Linked DNA regions of Homo sapiens: region 2 is linked to region 1. Evidence: fine-mapped expression QTL. Tissue or cell type: whole blood. Region 1 holds a variant in brackets; the other region holds the start of a gene. All regions are shown on one strand. Distances are from middle to middle.

Region 1 (8,000 bases):
AAAAAGAGTAGGAGCAAAAATATGACTAAGACTGTATTTTGCATTATTGACCAATGATGGTTTACATTATTTCCTTATTTTCCACCCCATCCTCCCCCACCCACTCCCTAAGCTGATAGTCATCCTATGCACCTAGTTTTAGGGGAAAGACACAGCAGGGCAGCCAGTATCCTGCTGACTTAAAAAAAAAAAAACCAGCTATATTGACATACAGTAAATTACATATTTAAAATACATTGGTGGGGCGCGGTGGCTCACGCTGTAATCCCAGCACTTTGGGAGGCCGAGGTGGGCAAATCACTTGAGGCCAGGAGTTCAAGACCAGCCTAGCCAACATGGTGAGACCCTGTCTGTACTAAAAATACAGAAATTAGCCAGGCATGGTGGCACGCACCTATAATCCCAGCTACTCAGGAGGTGGAGGCAGGAGAATCGCTTGAACCTGGGAGGCGGAGGTTGCAGTGAGCGGAGATCGCATCATTGCACTCCAGCCTGGGCAACAGAGTGAGACTCTGTCTCAAAAAAAAATATATGATTTGGTAAACAATTTTTTCTTTAATTTCTAGATTTGTTTTCAGAAACGGTCTTGGCAGGGCATGGTGCCTGAAGCCTGTAATCTCGCCCCTTTGGGAAGCTGGTGTGGGAGGATTGCTTGAGTTTAGGAGATCGAGATCAGCCTGGGCAACATGGTGAGACCAGCCTCATCTCTAATAAATAATAAATAAATAAATAAATAAATAAAATAATTAGCTGGTCATAGTGGCATGTGCCTGTAGTCCCAGCTACTTGGGAGGCTGAGATGGGAGGATCATTTGAACCCAGGAAGTCGAGGCTGCAGTGAGCCAGGATTGCACCACTGCACTCCAGTCTGGGTGACAGAGTGAGACCCTGTTTCTCCCCTTCCCCCCCCCACCCAAAAGAAGGGGGAAAAAAGAAAGAATCAGGGTCTCCCTATGTTGCCCAGACTGGCCTTGAACTCCTGGACTCAAGCGATCCTCCTACCCTAGCCTCCTGAGTAGCTGGGATTACAGGTGTGTGCCACTGAACCTGGCCTGATTTGATAAATTTTGACATATGTGTGCAACTATGAACCCAGCCTTGAAATCAATGGATCATATCCATTGCCCCTCAAAGTTTCCTCCATCCCACCCCTCCCTGCCTCCCCCTCCTCCCACCTCTCATTCCCTCGTACCTCCTGATTTGCTGTTAGTCACTGTCGATTAGTTTGTATTTCCTGGAGTTTTATGTAAGTGGAATGGTACCATCTGTGGTCTTCTGTGACTGGCTGCTTTCCCTGAGCATGATGTCCTGGTTCATCCATGTTGTTGTATGTATCAGTGTACCATTCTGTTGTACGGATGCACCCCAGTTTGTTTATCCATTCATCCCTTGATGGAGGTTTTTTTGTTTGTTTCGCTTTGTTTTTTTGAGATGGAGTCTCGCTCTGTCGCCCAGGCTGGAGTGCAGTGGCGCAATCTCGGCTCACTGCAACCTCCGCCTCCCAGGTTCAAGCGATTCTTCTGCCTCAGCCTCTCGAACAGCTGGGACTACAGGTGTGCGCCACCACGCCTGGCTAATTTTTTTGTATTTTTAGTAAAGACAGGGTTTCACCATGTTGACCAGGCTGGTCTCGAACTCCTGACCTCATAATCTGCCCACCTCGGCCTCCCAAAGTGCTGGGATTACAGGCGTGAGCCACCATGCCCGGCCTATACTTTAAGTTCTGGGATACATGTGCAGAACGTGCAGGTTTGTTACATAGGTATACACGTGCCATGGTGGTTTGCTGCATCCATCAACCCATCATCTACATTAGGTATTTCTCCGAATGCTATCCCTCTCCTAACCCCCAGCCCCCGACAGGCCCCAGTGTGTGATGTTCCCCTTGGTTGAGGTTTGAATTACTGATGGCACTTTTGGCTATCATGAATCAAGTTGCTAGCTGGATATGGTGGCACATGCCTGTAGTCCTAACTCTTTGGAAGGCTGAGGCAGGAGGATTGCTTGAGCCCAGGAATTTGAGACTGCAGTGAGCTGTGATTGGGCCAGGCTGCACTCCAGCCTGGGTGACAGACTGAGACTGTCTCAAAAAAAAAAAAAAAAAAAAAAGGAAAGAAAAGAAAACAGAATCAAGCTGCTATGAACATTCTGTACAAGTCTTTGTATGGACATGTGCTTTCATTTCTCTTGAGTAAATGCCTGGTAATGGAATATATCGTATGATAGGTGCATGCTTAATGTTTTAAGAAAACTTACCAGGCCAGTCACGGCGGCTCATGCCTGTCATTCCAGCACTTTGGGGAACTGAGGCGGGAGGATTGCTGGAGCCTAGGAGTTTGAGACCAACCTGACCGACATAGTGAGGCTCTGTTTCTTAATTTTTTTTTTTAATAAGAAGAAAATGTACCAACTTTTCTTCCTTTGTGCTGGAATTGCAAGGTAAAAAAATAATAGTAATAACAAGGAAAACGTACCAACTTTTCCAAAGTGGATCTGCCATGTGATGTTCCTGCCAGCTGCTCAGCATGCTTCTCTTCTTTGCTTCACTATCTGTCTCATTTTTTTTTTTTGAGATGGGGTCTTGCTCTGTTGCCCAGGCTGGAGTGCAGTGGCATGATCTCGGCTCACTGCAACCTCTGCCTCCTGGGTTCAAGCGATTCTCCTTCCTCTGCTTTCCAAGTAGCTGGGACTACAGGCGTGTTCCACCACACCCAGCTAATTTTGTATTTTTAGCAGAGACAGGTTTCACTATATGTTGGCCAGGCGCGTCTCAAACTCCTGACCTCAAGTGATCAACCCACCTCAGCGTCCCAAAGTGCTGGGATTACAGGCATGAGCCACCACACCCAGCTTCTTTTTTTTGTTTTGTTTTGTTTTTTGTTTTTTTGAGACATCCTCGGTCTGTTGCCCAGGCTGTGCAGTGGCGTGATCTCGGCTCACTGCCACCTCCGCCTCCTGGGTTCAAGCGATTCTCCTGCCTCAGCCTCCAGAGTAGCTGGGATTACAGGCGCCTGTCACCACGCCTGGCAAATTTTTGTGTGTGTGTGTGTGTGCAGTCGGGGTTTCACCATGTTGCCCAGGCTGGTCTTGAACCCCTGACCTCAAGTGATCCGCCCGCCTCAGCCTCCCAAAGTGCTGGGATTACAGGCGTGAGCCACCGCACCCAGCCGCTCACCATCTCTTTGTCGCCTGCATGGCACCATTCTCTCCTGTACCACCCCAAAGCCTTACCAGGTGCCTCCTGCATTTAACCAGGTCCCATAGCTCTCTGTGCTTCCCGGCACACCCTCTCACCACCCTCATCATCAATTATTCACCTTGCTGACTGCTTAGTGTTTGTCTCCTGGCTGGATTACATAAGCCCTGTAAGGGCAGAGCTCTGTTTGTCTTGATCACCATTAGGTTCTGGTGCTTGGCATACAGTAGGCATTCCACACATGCTTGCTGAATTAATGCATGACCGGGTCTGGGGTGCTGGGTTTCACACCAGGCTCTACCGCAAACATTGGGTCAAGTATTTTCATTCCCGACGTACAGATGAGTCAATTGAATCAACGGAAAGCAAAATGATCCCATCCAAGCTCCCTCAACTTGCCGGGCTGGTCTGGGAGTCGAACCAGATCTGCCTGACCCTCCCACCGGTGCTGAAAAGTGGAGTGTGTGCTGGGGTGGTAGGGGATGGGGCAGAAGAGAGACGGGCTTCCTCACAGAAGGGTTTGAGGGCTAGGATGAGGCGTGCACACTCTGCACCCCTGCTTCGGAGCTTTGAAAGGGTGCACAGCACACCCGCCCTCTCTGGGAACCCTCGGGAGCTTGAGGTTGCCTGATGAAGGGGCTGATGGGTTGAACGCAAAGGGCCCCTCCACCCACCCTTTTTTCTATCTCCCCAACCAAGCCCTGGTAACAGGCATTTCCGGTTTCCGGCCGGCTCCCTGGTGCTGGGGTGGGGGTGGGGAGTTGATTGCTGCCGTCGTGCTTGGCTCTGGGTCCCCTTCTCCCAGACCCCAGAGGCCTCTGTCCCTGCACACTGCTTCCCCGAAGGAGCGTGGAAAGCCAGCCGACCTTTCTGGCTCTTTCTTCATCTTGGGCAGGGGTTTTGTTGATGGGAGGCTGGCTGGCAAATGGGGAAGAATGAACCTCAGGGTTCACCGCAGTGCGCCTGGGTGCTGATTTGCATATGGGCACGATGCCAGCACAGTGGGTGCCCGCCTCTTCCTGGAGGAAGGAAGAGGGGCACTGAGGGGGGTTGCCCCCAGCAGGGAGGAACCGTCCTCATAATGCCTCTCCTACGTTTGTTTAAAGGACCATCATTCTCAGCAAACTATAGCAAGGACAAAAAACCAAACACCGCATGTTCTCACTTATAGGTGGGAATTGAACAATGAGAACACATGGGCACAGGAAGGGGAACATCACACACAGGGGACTGTTGTGGGGTCGGGGAAGTGGGGAGGGATAACATTAGGAGATATACCTAATGCTAAATGAGGAGTTAATGGGTGCAGCACACCAACATGACACATGTATACATATGTAACAAACCTGCACGTTGTGCACATGTACCCTAAAATTTAAAGTATAATAATAATAAAATTAAAAAAAATAAAGGACCTCCTGTCCTTTGCCACTTTCTCACACTCTTCAGGCGACCAGGAAGTCCTTTCTGGTGGTCTAACTGCAGTCACTGCTGCTGTCTGATGGAGCCCCTTTCTTTAGCTGGCCCCACCGCAGCCCGGAGAGGGGATGAATCATGCCCCCTTTCCCCTCTTTGAGGCATCACATGACTGGAAGGAAGCTGTCTCCGGGTTCAGCTGATCTCCCTGAGGTCAGGAGGGAACTTCCTCCCT[C/T]GAGCCACAGACACAGCCATCTGCTCTATTGTCTCTGGTGATCTGCCTGCCCATGAGCGCCCTCATTATGCCACTCTCTAAGAGGCACCAGGAGCAGCTTAGTGTGGTTCAAAGAGGCAGTGTTGTACAGAGGTTAGAGGCACAGACTTTGGGATCCAGTGCTGGTATCTGGTTCTCCATTCCTATCTGTGTGGTCCGGGATGGGCAGTATCCCCTCTCTGAGCCTCAGTTGTTTCCTCTGTCAAAGGGAGATTTATTCATTCGACAGATTTTATTGAGCATCTACTATGTGTCAGACATGGTACTAGGTATTGAGGTCCTCTATTTACCCAAAGGAGTTGAACATTTATGTCCACACAAAAACTTACACTCAAGTCTTTGTAGCGGCTTTATTCATGATTGCTGAAACTGGGAGGCAACAAATTGTCCTTCGGTAGATGAATGCGATGTAGGGCAAGGCAAGCCCTAAATTGGGGCTCAGCCTGGGACGGTTCTTTGTTTTGCCCAGGAAAGAATTCCAGGGCGAGCTGGAGGTGTTAGACAGTAGCTTTTACTGAAGTGAAAGTGCATAGCGGCAGTTGCAGAAGTCCTGCTCCTCGCAGAGCAGGGCTACCCCACAGGCTGTGAGCCCGGAGTAATCAGGGTTGCAGTCATCTTTGTACCCACTTTAATTATATGCAAATTAAAGGGCAGATTATGCAAATTTCTAGGAAAAGGGTGGTAACTTCTGGGTTGTCGGGTCATTGCCTTGGGAAAGGAGTAGTAGCTGCTGGTGTTACCATCACAATGGCAAACTGCCATGGCACACTGGTGGGCATGTCTTATGGAAAGGTGCTTCTGCTCCAGCCCTGTTTTAGCTAGTCCTCAATTTGGTCCGTTGTCTGAGCCCCACCTCCAGAGTCAAGTTCCACCTACTTCCTCGTATGGATAAATAAGCTGTGGTGCATCCAGACAATGGAATATTATTATTATTATTAGAGATGGACTTTTGCCCTTGTTGTCCAGGCTAGAGTGCAATGGTGTGGTCTCGGCTCACTGCAACCTCTGCTTCCCAGGTCCAAGCTGTTCTCCTGCCTCAGCCTCCTGAGTAGCTGGGTTTACTGGCACCTGCCACCACACCTGGCTAATTTTTGTATTTTTAGTAGAGATGGGATTTCACCATGTTGGCCAGGCTGGCCTCAAACTCCTGACCTCAGGTGATCCAGCCACGTCGGCCTCCCAAAGTGCTGAGATTACAGGTGTGAGCCACTGCTCCCAGCGCAGACAATGGAATATTATTCAGCACTGAAGAGAGATGAGATGAGCTCTCAAGCCATGAAGAGACACGCAGGAACCCCAAATGCATATTACTAAGTGAAAGAAGCCAGTCCCAAAAGGCTACATACTATATGATACCAGCTATGTGATGTTTCAGAAAAGGCAAAACTGTAGAAGCAGTAAAAAGATCAGTAGTTGTCAGAGGTTAGTGGAAAGGGGGTATGGATAGGCAGAGCATGGAAGCTTTCCACGGCAGTGAAAATACTCTCTATGACACTATAATAGTGGATACCCATCATCATACATGTGTCCAAATCCAGAGAATGTGACGCACGGCAGGCAAGCCCCAAAGTGGGGCTTAGCCTGTGAGGCTTCTTGGTTTCACCCAAGAAGCCTCACAGGCTAAGGAAAGAATTCAAGGGTGATTCCAGTGGTAGGGTAGACGAAAACAGCTTTATTGCCGTGGCAGTGTTACAGCTCCATGACTGCTCTTGCAGGGCTACCCCACAGGCTGAGAGTAGCAGCTCAGGGCAGTTTGGCGGTCCTATTTATATTTATTTATTTATTTATTTAGAGACAGAGTCTTGCTCTGTCGCCCAGGCTGGAGTGCAGTAGTGCAATCTCAGCTCATTGCAACCTCTGCCTCCCAGGTTCAAGCAATTCTCCTGCCTCACCCTTCTGAGTAGCTGGGATTACAGGCGCGTGCCACCACGCCTGACTAACTTTTGTATTTTTAGTAGAGATGAGGTTTCGCCATGTTGGCCAGGCTGGTCTCAAATTTCCGACCTCAGGTGTTCTGCCTGCCTTGGCCTCCCAAAGTGCTGGGATTACAGGCATGAACCACTGTGCCCTTCCCATACCTCCTTTTTTTTTTTTTTTTGAGACGGAGTCTTGCTCTGTCGCACAGGCTGGAGTGCAGTGGCGCAATCTTGGCTCACTGCAAGCTCTGCCTCCCACGTTCACGCCATTCTCCTGCTTCAGCCTCCCAAGTAGCTGGGACTACAGGCGCCCGCCACCATGCCCGGCTAATTTTTTGTATTTTTAGTAGAGATGAGTTTTCACCATGTTAGCCAGGATGGTCTCGATTGCCTGACCTTCCTGAGGCGTGAACCACCCGCCTCAGCCTCCCTAAGTGCTGGGATTACAGGTGTGAGCCACCGCCCCCCGGCCCATACCTCCTTTTAATTACATGTAGAGTAAGGGGCAGTTTATGCAGAAATTTCCAGGGAAGGGGTAGTAACTTTTGGGTGATCAGGTAATTGCCATGAAAAGCGGTGGTAAGGCCGGGCGCAGCGGTTCATGCCTGTAATCCCAGCACTTTGGGAGGCCGAGGCGGATGGATCACCTACAGTCAGGAGTTCGAGACCAGCCTGGCCAACATGGTGAAACCCCGTCTCTACTAAAAATACAAAAATTAGCTGGGTATGGTGGCACACACCTGTGATCCCAGCTACTCAGGAGGCTGAGGCAGGAGCATCGCTTGAACCCGGGAGGTGGAGGTTGCAGCGAGTTGAGATCATAATACTGCACTCTAGCCTGGGCCACAGAGCAAGACTCCATCTCAAACAAAACAAAACAAAACAAAAACAAAGAAAATAGACCAGTTGTGGTGGCTCACATCTGTAATCCCAGGACCTTAGGAGGCTGAGGCAGGAGGATCACTTGAGCCCAGGGGTTCGAGACCAGCCTGGGCAACATAGTGAGACCCTCATTTCTACAGATACACACACACACACACACACACACACACACATACACGCACACACACATGAGTTGGGGGGATGGTTTCAGGATGAATCAACCACATTACATTTATTGTTCACTTTATTTCTATTATTATTACATTGTAATATATAATGAAATAATTATACAGCTCACACATATGTGTATATATAT
Region 2 (8,104 bases), 62 kb before region 1:
ACCCTGTCTCCCTCCCTGTCCACCCACGGGATCTTCCTGCTCCTGCCTCTGACAAAGAACAGGGGCCCTTGGGTTACAGATGCAGAGGACAGACCCTACCCCCTCCCTCCAGCCCCTTCTCCCGTCTTCCCCATGCCCTCCACTCACTGAATAGGAGCGAACTCTGCCAGACCGAACCCGGCTGAGACTGAACCCCACCTGGTGGGTGGAAAAAAAAAGGGGAGGGTGTGAGGGACAGTAGAGACCTCCCAGCTATCCCTTTCAGTAGCAATAGAAACCTAACCTCACATTTACTGAACACCTAACATGTGCTAGATCCCACACGCTCTTTTTCTTTTTTAGAGTTGGGGTGGTGGGTGGACCTCATTCTGTTTCTCAAGCTGGAATACAGTGGCAGGATCATAGCTCACTACAGCCTCGAACTCCCAGGTTCAAACGATCCTCTCACCTCGGCCTCCCGACTGGCTGGGACTACAGGCACACCTCACCACGCCCGGCTAATTTTAAAAACTTTTTGTAGAGACGGGGTTCTCACTATGTTGCCCAGGCTGGTCTTGAACTCCTGGCCTCAGGCAATCCTCCCACCTTGGCCTCCCAAAGTGCTAGGACTACAAAGCCTGAGCCACCGCGCCCCGCCTGTCCCCCAAGTCTTAAGAAAAGTGCCTAGCACATCCTGTGTAAGACATCATTACTCCCAGGTACAGATGACGAAACAGGCTCAGAGAGATGACGGGACTTGTACAAGATCACATGGGTAGCGGCAGAGCTGGGAACCCAGAACCGGGGGATTGCACCGTGCTCTCCTCCAGCAAACTCCTCAAGGTCCCTCACCAGCAGGGACTTCTCTTCTGCCTCCCGGAGGCCCAGCCGCAGGACGCTCAACTCCACCTCCAGAGAGCCATTGGTGTAGAAACCGAAGCTGTTCAGCTGGATGTCCGCTCGCTTCTCCCCCTGCCGGAGACCAAGGAGGCAGAGGCAGTTCAGACCTCTTTCCGCCTGCCCAGCCCCAGGGGTCTGGCACGAGGACCTCCAGAAGGGCCTCCTGGTACCCCTCTATTTAGGACAGGCCCAGAGGATGACAAGAGAAAGTTGAGAGGGACTTCCTCCCTGCAGGGGAAGGGTGGTCCTGCATTCTCCGACCTCTGTTCTGAGAACCCAGGAACAGAGATCCTGCGGCACCTGGAAGTCTCCCCACTGGGGTGAGCACCGCCCGGAGAACAGTTATTCACCTCGGCGTGCCTGACCTTCACCTTCCCGAAGAACTTTTACATTCCAGTTGAGCTCCCAGCAATATTTCAACAGAACCCCCCAAATCCCATTAAGTGCCCAGAGGACCCCACTCTATAGCCCCCCAGGACCCCGCTGTGCGGCTCCAGGGTCTCTAGCGCCCCAAAAGTGATTCCAAGAATTTAAAGGACTAAGACCCAGTTGGGGGGAAGGGGGGTGTAGTCCCCAAGAGATGGAGCCTCGCCCCCGAAGGGAGGGGGCCGACCCCAGCGAGGCGGACCCGGCAACTCCATCCGGAGGACCGAAGGGGATCCCGGGACGAGACCACTCCGGGCCCGGAAACGGGGGGCGCCGGACCACTCCACCGCCTCGGGGACGGGGGAGGGCGGACGAGACCACTCCAAGCCAGGGGGCTTCTCCGAGACAAAGTTGCGCCACCGACCCCAGACCCTCGCGCGGCGGGCCTCACCGTCAGCGCCAGCTGGTGGATGCGCCCGGAGCAGCCACCCAGCAGCAGCACCAGAAGTAGCCGCTGCCCCCACTCCGCGGGGCTCCCGCGGCCGAGCCCCCTCCTCTCGCTCACTGCCATCTCTGGAGCCACCTCCTCCCCGACTCCGCCTCTGGCGCCCAAGCCCGCCCACCGATGAGCCAATCGCCGCACGGCGGGGCCCGGCCTTTCGGAGTTTCCAGTCCGCCAACCAATCAGCAATTGCCTCTCCGCAAGCCCGCCTGCTTGCGTCACCGACGGACAGCACCGGTTCCGAATGGGAGAGCCGATAACGCTTAACCCCCAGCTCACTCTCACCAATCGCTATAAAGATTGTCCGGATGTGATTTAATGAGCAGTTTATCTAACCAATTGTCATGGATCTGATATCCGGCCCTTAAAGCGGAATTTCTCCACCCACTCTTAACTGTCCGGGACTACATTACCCAGAATGCAGCGGGAGCAGACAAGGGCCACAAAGCATTAAATAAACTACCTTTCCCAGTATCCCCAAGGACGGACTTCCTCTTCTTGAGCCAGGGATGTGGCTCCCAGCCAGAGCTGAGGCTTTTGGTAAACACACGCATCTGTTCAGGCCTGACCTGTTTTCCTAATCTTCCTGGTCCACAGAGAGGCCTAAAGCTGGCCTCAGGTTAAAGTTTGACCCTAGGATGACCTATGACCCCAGGCTGAGACCCCAGCCTTAGGCTAAGCCTTTTATTCCAGAGTGAGGCAATTGGAGCCCCACCCCCAGATTCCAGGCTAGACCGGACTCCGGGCTGAACTCTGACCCCAGGTGAACTCCCTCTCTGCAAGTTGAGTCCTAACTTCAGCCTGAAACTCTGACACCCCCTCGTCCCCCACACCACACACTGAGGCTTAATCTCTGGTTTAGGCCACCGATCTGGACTAGCCCTGACTCCAGATTGGACCTGACCCCTTACCGGGTTGCTAATCCTTCTGGTTAAGCCTCTGGCCTCTATCCCCTATCCCCACGGTGGTGCTGACCTGGACTGAACCCCAATTCCAGTTTGAGTCTCTGAGCAGAGGTGAACTCAGAACTTTGCTAGGCTGAGCCCCCATTTGAGACTAGCCACAGAACTCACTGGGTTCAATTGCCCAACTGCAATCAGACATTTTCTAGCTCAGAAGCCACCAGCAGGTGGGGCCAGGTCTCAGCAGAGACATCAGTCCCAGTGTGGGCTCCCAAGGCTCTCCTCCTGGGCTCAGCTGTATCTCTCTGTTCTGGGAGCCTGGGTGCTCTGTGTAAGGGGAACGTATACCCAAGGGCCCCCCTGCAAGACGCCCAGCCTTGTCTGAGGCTGCAGAGAAAGCGCCAAAGCCCGGAGAGAATGGGAGTGGGAATCCCCAGTGCCTCCTCTCCTCTTTCATTCCAGCACCTCAAAGGGATTTACAAGGTGTGAACAGACTTTTATGGGAGAGGTGACAGACTTCCCTTCTCCAGGGCCCAGATGGCCCAGATGTCTGGGGGAGGGGCGGAGTCGGAATCTCAGGGGCAGTACTGAGAATGAAACCAGGTTAAACTGGAAAATGGGCAGATGCAGGCGCGAACTGGAAGGCAGCTGGGGAAAGGCCTGGGCCTGGCGCCCCAAGGACGGCCTGTCTTCAGTTTCCCAGCGGAGACTCTGGGGGAGGGAAGGCAGGATGCGGTGCGGGAGTTAATGGACCTGGCCTTGGCGAAGGCGCGTCCTGGGTTGGATCGAAACCCTCTCATCCGCCCTGTGGCCGGAGGGACCAGACCATTAGTGGGACGAACCTAGACGCCTGGAGCCGGGCCGGCTCGCAAGAACGGGGTGACCTCAGGTTGCCCCTGCAATGGGGTTGAGGAAGGACTTCTTGAGTTTGGGGTTTTAGTGTCTTGGCCCTTTAAGGAATAATTGCGGGGAAAGGGGAAAAGGAGATGGGAAGAACCGTTTGGAGCGGGGAAGGAAGATGAGAGGACGAGAGGGACCCCGGGGATTTGGAAAAAATGGGTGGGGGTTCTTTAAGGGGTCGGTCCAGCGGCGTCGAGTGGCAACGTTGCTTTAAAAGGGGGCGGAGCGTCCGTTGGGCCCCGCCCCCGAATCGCAGTGCTTGGGCTCCGCGCGGGTGGGGGCGTGGCAGAGCGTGCAGGGGGGCGGGGAAGAGTCTGGGGTGGGCGGGGCCGGGCGGGGCGGGGCGGGGCCAGGCGCACCGCCCTCGGCTGAGTCTCCCCGGGGAGGGCGGCGGGCGGCGGGCGGCGGGGACCGGGTGCGGTGGTGGCTGCGGCGGCGGCGGCGGGAGCAGCATGGATTGGGGCACTGAGCTGTGGGTAAGTCCAATCGGCCCGCCTCTAAGTTCCCCTTTGCTGGGGTCCAGGCACCCCCCTTTTGTCCCCAATGTATCTTAGAGGGGGCTCCGCGCCTTTCCCTTCCACCGACCCCTGGGTCCCCGCCCTCCACCCTCCGCTCTCTCTCGAAGTTTATCTGGGAGTCTCAGCACGCTCAGGGGCGAAGGGCGACTTTGCCGGACCGGAGTGGGGAAACTGAGGCACAGGGTTGCGAATGAGGCGGGCAGAAGGAATCCTGGGGCCAGGCCGGGGCGGCTGAGAGAGGTCACCTATTTTGGGCGCCCTGGCCGGGCAGGCGGCTTATCTTACGGCCCCTGGGTCCCTGCCCGTCGTCCGCCTGTCCGGCTAGGAGGGGGGAGGGGACCCTCTGGTCACCCTCATCCCCACCCACGTGGGACCTAGAAGTCCTGACCGCCCTTTCCCTCGCCTTTAATCAACACCTAGGGGCTGGGGACGCTCATGGAGGGGAAGGGGGATGCTAAGCTCGGCCTGATCCCCCTCCCTGGCTTCCCCCTGCTCACCCCAGGCCCAGGGCGGGACCGCCCCCTGGTCGCCTATAACCTCAGCCCTGGAAGCCCCAGAAATTTCCCCCTATCCTAGCCGGACCTCTGACCCCTCCCCTTGCTGGGGGCGGTGGAATCCCTGAGTTCTTAGTGCAGCGGGGGTAACCAGACTGCCACCCCCTCCTCCAATTCTGCGATTTCTTTTGGATGTGTAGTGGGGTCAGTGGGGTAAATTGAGTCACCCATCGGGGGATCCCTGGAAGCAGGGAGATTCAGGGAACCTGGTGCCTGCCCCCTGGCCACTCAGGGGCCCCCAGTCTGCCAGGAACCCTGCCCCTCTGGCCTTGACTCACGCCGGGCCGGCCGGATTTTCCGGAATCCGGGGGGATTAGGGGAGCCCGAGCTGGGGGAGTGGCCCTGTCCCCTTCCACGCCCCTCTTGGCGGTCCTATGTCGGAGACCTCCATCTCCCGGCCGGGGTGGCTGGGGCCTGGGCGCTGTTCTCCGGCCCTTCCCGGGAAGGGGAGGGGGTTCCCGCCAGTTTCCTGCCTCCCCCCGCGCCACGCCGGGGCGGCGCCGGGAAGCCACTCCTTCTAGGAGCGCAGAGCCTTGGCCCTCCCTGGGAGTCTGGTCGGCGGGCTGTGGGGTCCCAAAATCGTGACCCCGGCCCCTCTCCCCTCCTCCCCCACCATGTCCCATGTCAGGATCAGTTCGAGGTGCTCGAGCGCCACACGCAGTGGGGGCTGGACCTGTTGGACAGATATGTAAAGTTCGTGAAAGAACGCACCGAAGTGGAACAGGCTTACGCCAAACAACTGCGGTGAGACCCTGGGGTGGACGCTACGGAGGACGCGCCTGGGGCGACGGGGAGCGGTGGGAGGGCTGCGGGCTCAGCCCTCCTACCTCTGTCTCCCCTTAGGAGCCTGGTGAAAAAATATCTGCCCAAGAGACCTGCCAAGGATGATCCTGAGTCCAAGTAAGGTTGGAGAGGGGCTGCAGGGCTAGATTTGTGGGGAAAGGCGGTGCTTGGGTCTCACTTCCCCTCCCTCAGCTGGGACACCCCACCGCTCCTCTCACTTCCCCTTCTAGAGGTGAGAGCATGGATGCAAGATGCGGGATTATCTGGCTTGGAATCCTGAGTCCACTACTATGTAGAGAAATTGACTTGGGCTTGTGACTCAGGTTTTCTGCCACTATTTTCCTTAACTGTTAAATACAGAGGCCCCAGCAGTTACAAAACCAGTAACTTTGGGCAGATGACTTAAAGTTTTGCGCCTCTGTTTTCCTCATCTGTGAAATGGAATGATGACGATTCCTCCAGCTTTGTAGGGCTTTCATGAACACGAGCTGAGTGAATGTGTTTAAACAGTGTGCAGTCCATATCAAACGCCGTAAGGAGCATTTGACTTGGAATTGAGTCCCCAATTCCAAAATCCAAAAAAGCCCTGGAAATCAAGTTGTTTTGGTCACTTGTTTGGCAGCAATCTCTGACCTGAACTTTTTGTTAATTGTAGTTGTTTTGTTTTGTTTTTGACAGAGTTTCACTCTGTCCCCCAGGCTGGAGTGCAGTGGCGCCATCTCAGCTCACTGCAACTTCCGCCTCCCAGGTTCAAGCGATTCTCCTGCCTCAGCCTCCCTAGTAGCTGGGATTACAGTCACCTGCCACCATGCCCAGCTAATTTTTATATTTTTAGTAGAGACAGGGTTTCACCATGTTAGCCAGGCTGGTAATTGTAGTTTTGACTTTTATCCCACTTAGTGTGAATGTTAACACCTCTCATTGTAAAATTAAAAAAAAAAATAGGGTTGGGCACAGTGGCTCACACCTGTAATCCCACACATTGGGAGGGTGCGCAGGTGGATCACTTGAGGTCAGGAGTTCGAGAGCAGCCTGGTCAACATGGTGAAACCTTGTCTCTTCTAAAAATACAAAAATTAGCCAGGCGTTGTGGTGCGCGCCTGTAATCCCAGCTACTCAGGAGGCTGAGGCATGAGAATCGCTTGAACCCGGGAGGCGGAGGTTGCAGTGAGCCAAGATCGCACCACTGCACTCCAGCCTGGGCGACAGAGTGAGACTCTGTCTCCAAAACAAATAGATACGGTGTTTGATTACAAAATGATGTCCCCAACCCCACTAAGATGATGCAGAAAAGATGGTATAAGCTTTGTACACCATCTTTAAAAACTGGAAAATTCTGTGTTCCAATATACATTCGAGGTCCAGTGCGGTGGCTCACACCTGTACTCCCAGCACTTTGGGAGGGTGAGGCGGGAAGATGCGGAGTTCGGGGGGATTGGAGTTTGAGACCTCATCTGGAAAAAAAAAATTAGCCAGGTGTGGTGGCGTGTGCCTGTGGTCCCAGCTATTTGGGAGCCTGAGGTGGGAGGATCACTTGAGCCCAGGAGTTTGAGGCTGCAGTGAGACGCAATCATGCCGCTGCACTGCAGCCTGGGTGACAGCAAGACCCTGTCTCAAAAAAAAAAAAAAAAAAAATCTACTCAAGGGTTGGGGTTAAGGAATATGGACCAGAATTTGTCATCGCTTCAGGGATTACATTCTTGGGGCTTAACCCTTTTCCACCTGGAGGTGCGTCCTGGGGCATCAGCCTGCTCGGGAGGAGGGGCCTGACTCCCTGTTCCCCGATTCTCATCCAACCCCAGATTCAGCCAGCAACAGTCCTTCGTACAGATTCTCCAGGAGGTGAATGACTTTGCAGGCCAGCGGGAGCTGGTGGCTGAGAACCTCAGTGTCCGTGTATGTCTTGAGCTGACCAAGTACTCACAAGAGATGAAACAGGAGAGGAAGATGGTGAGGAGCCCCCCGATTCAGGTTTTACAAAGGGCTTCTGCTGGAACCCTGGCGAGCCTTATCACTCTTCTTTCTGTAGCACTTCCAAGAAGGGCGGCGGGCCCAGCAGCAGCTGGAAAATGGCTTTAAACAGCTGGAGAATGTGAGTTTGCAGAGGTAGCAGTGACTGTGGCCCGGAGGCATGGGGGCAGGGTTGCGGATCCGGAGTCAGGGAGCTGCCCTCTTTGTCAGACCTGGACCTTCCCTCCCCCATAGGCTTCCAGTACTCCCTTGACCCCTACTTACTGGATGACATCCCAATAATCCCTGAAACCTTGGTTTCCCACCCTGCTGTCTTTGGGATGGTGGCTCCCTCACTCCGGTTCTGTCCCCTACACAGAGTAAGCGTAAATTTGAGCGGGACTGCCGGGAGGCAGAGAAGGCAGCCCAGACTGCTGAACGGCTAGACCAGGATATCAACGCCACCAAGGCTGATGTGGAGAAGGTGTGTGTGGCGGGGGCGGGGGGGGGGTGCGGGGTCTGGGACAAGCTTGGGGAGTCCGAGTGGGACGTGATCGGAACCTGGCAGTACCTTCCACCTCTGCATTCTTCAGGCCAAGCAGCAAGCCCACCTTCGGAGTCACATGGCCGAAGAAAGCAAAAACGAATATGCGGCTCAACTGCAGCGCTTCAACCGAGACCAAGCCCACTTCTATTTTTCACAGATGCCCCAGATATTCGATGTGAGTGCTCCCAGTTCTCAGACCTACC

The links. PIP is the estimated chance that this variant, and not a neighbour inherited with it, causes the effect.
Region 2: it holds the start of TRIP10, and the variant in region 1 is fine-mapped to the expression of TRIP10 in whole blood (INTERVAL, PIP 0.91).

Annotation. Positions count from the first base shown.
Region 1 is chr19:6,797,758-6,805,757 of GRCh38, forward strand. The region is part of intron 1 of VAV1 (vav guanine nucleotide exchange factor 1); the gene reads left to right. Among named protein-coding and RNA genes, the nearest start is that of VAV1, 29 kb to the left of the region's middle. RefSeq lists enhancers at 3,955-4,475, 4,266-4,335, 5,218-5,437. The variant C/T (reference allele first, on the strand shown) is at 4,848.
Region 2 is chr19:6,735,761-6,743,864 of GRCh38, forward strand. It overlaps TRIP10 (thyroid hormone receptor interactor 10), which reads left to right and starts at 3,920. Exons shown (of 15, transcript NM_001288962.2): 1 at 3,920-4,025; 2 at 5,250-5,365; 3 at 5,465-5,521; 4 at 7,207-7,354; 5 at 7,434-7,496; 6 at 7,734-7,838; 7 at 7,948-8,076. The coding sequence starts at 4,002. GPR108 (G protein-coupled receptor 108) reads right to left here and starts at 1,820. Exons shown (of 18, transcript NM_001080452.2): 1 at 1,697-1,820; 2 at 832-951; 3 at 148-198. The coding sequence starts at 1,816. It overlaps MIR6791 (microRNA 6791), which reads right to left and starts at 1,018; the gene lies at 952-1,018. RefSeq lists enhancers at 1-171, 695-844, 2,285-2,344, 2,477-3,245, 3,325-3,414 and 3 more and silencers at 635-789, 1,155-1,316, 1,465-1,634, 1,735-1,794, 3,765-4,044 and 1 more.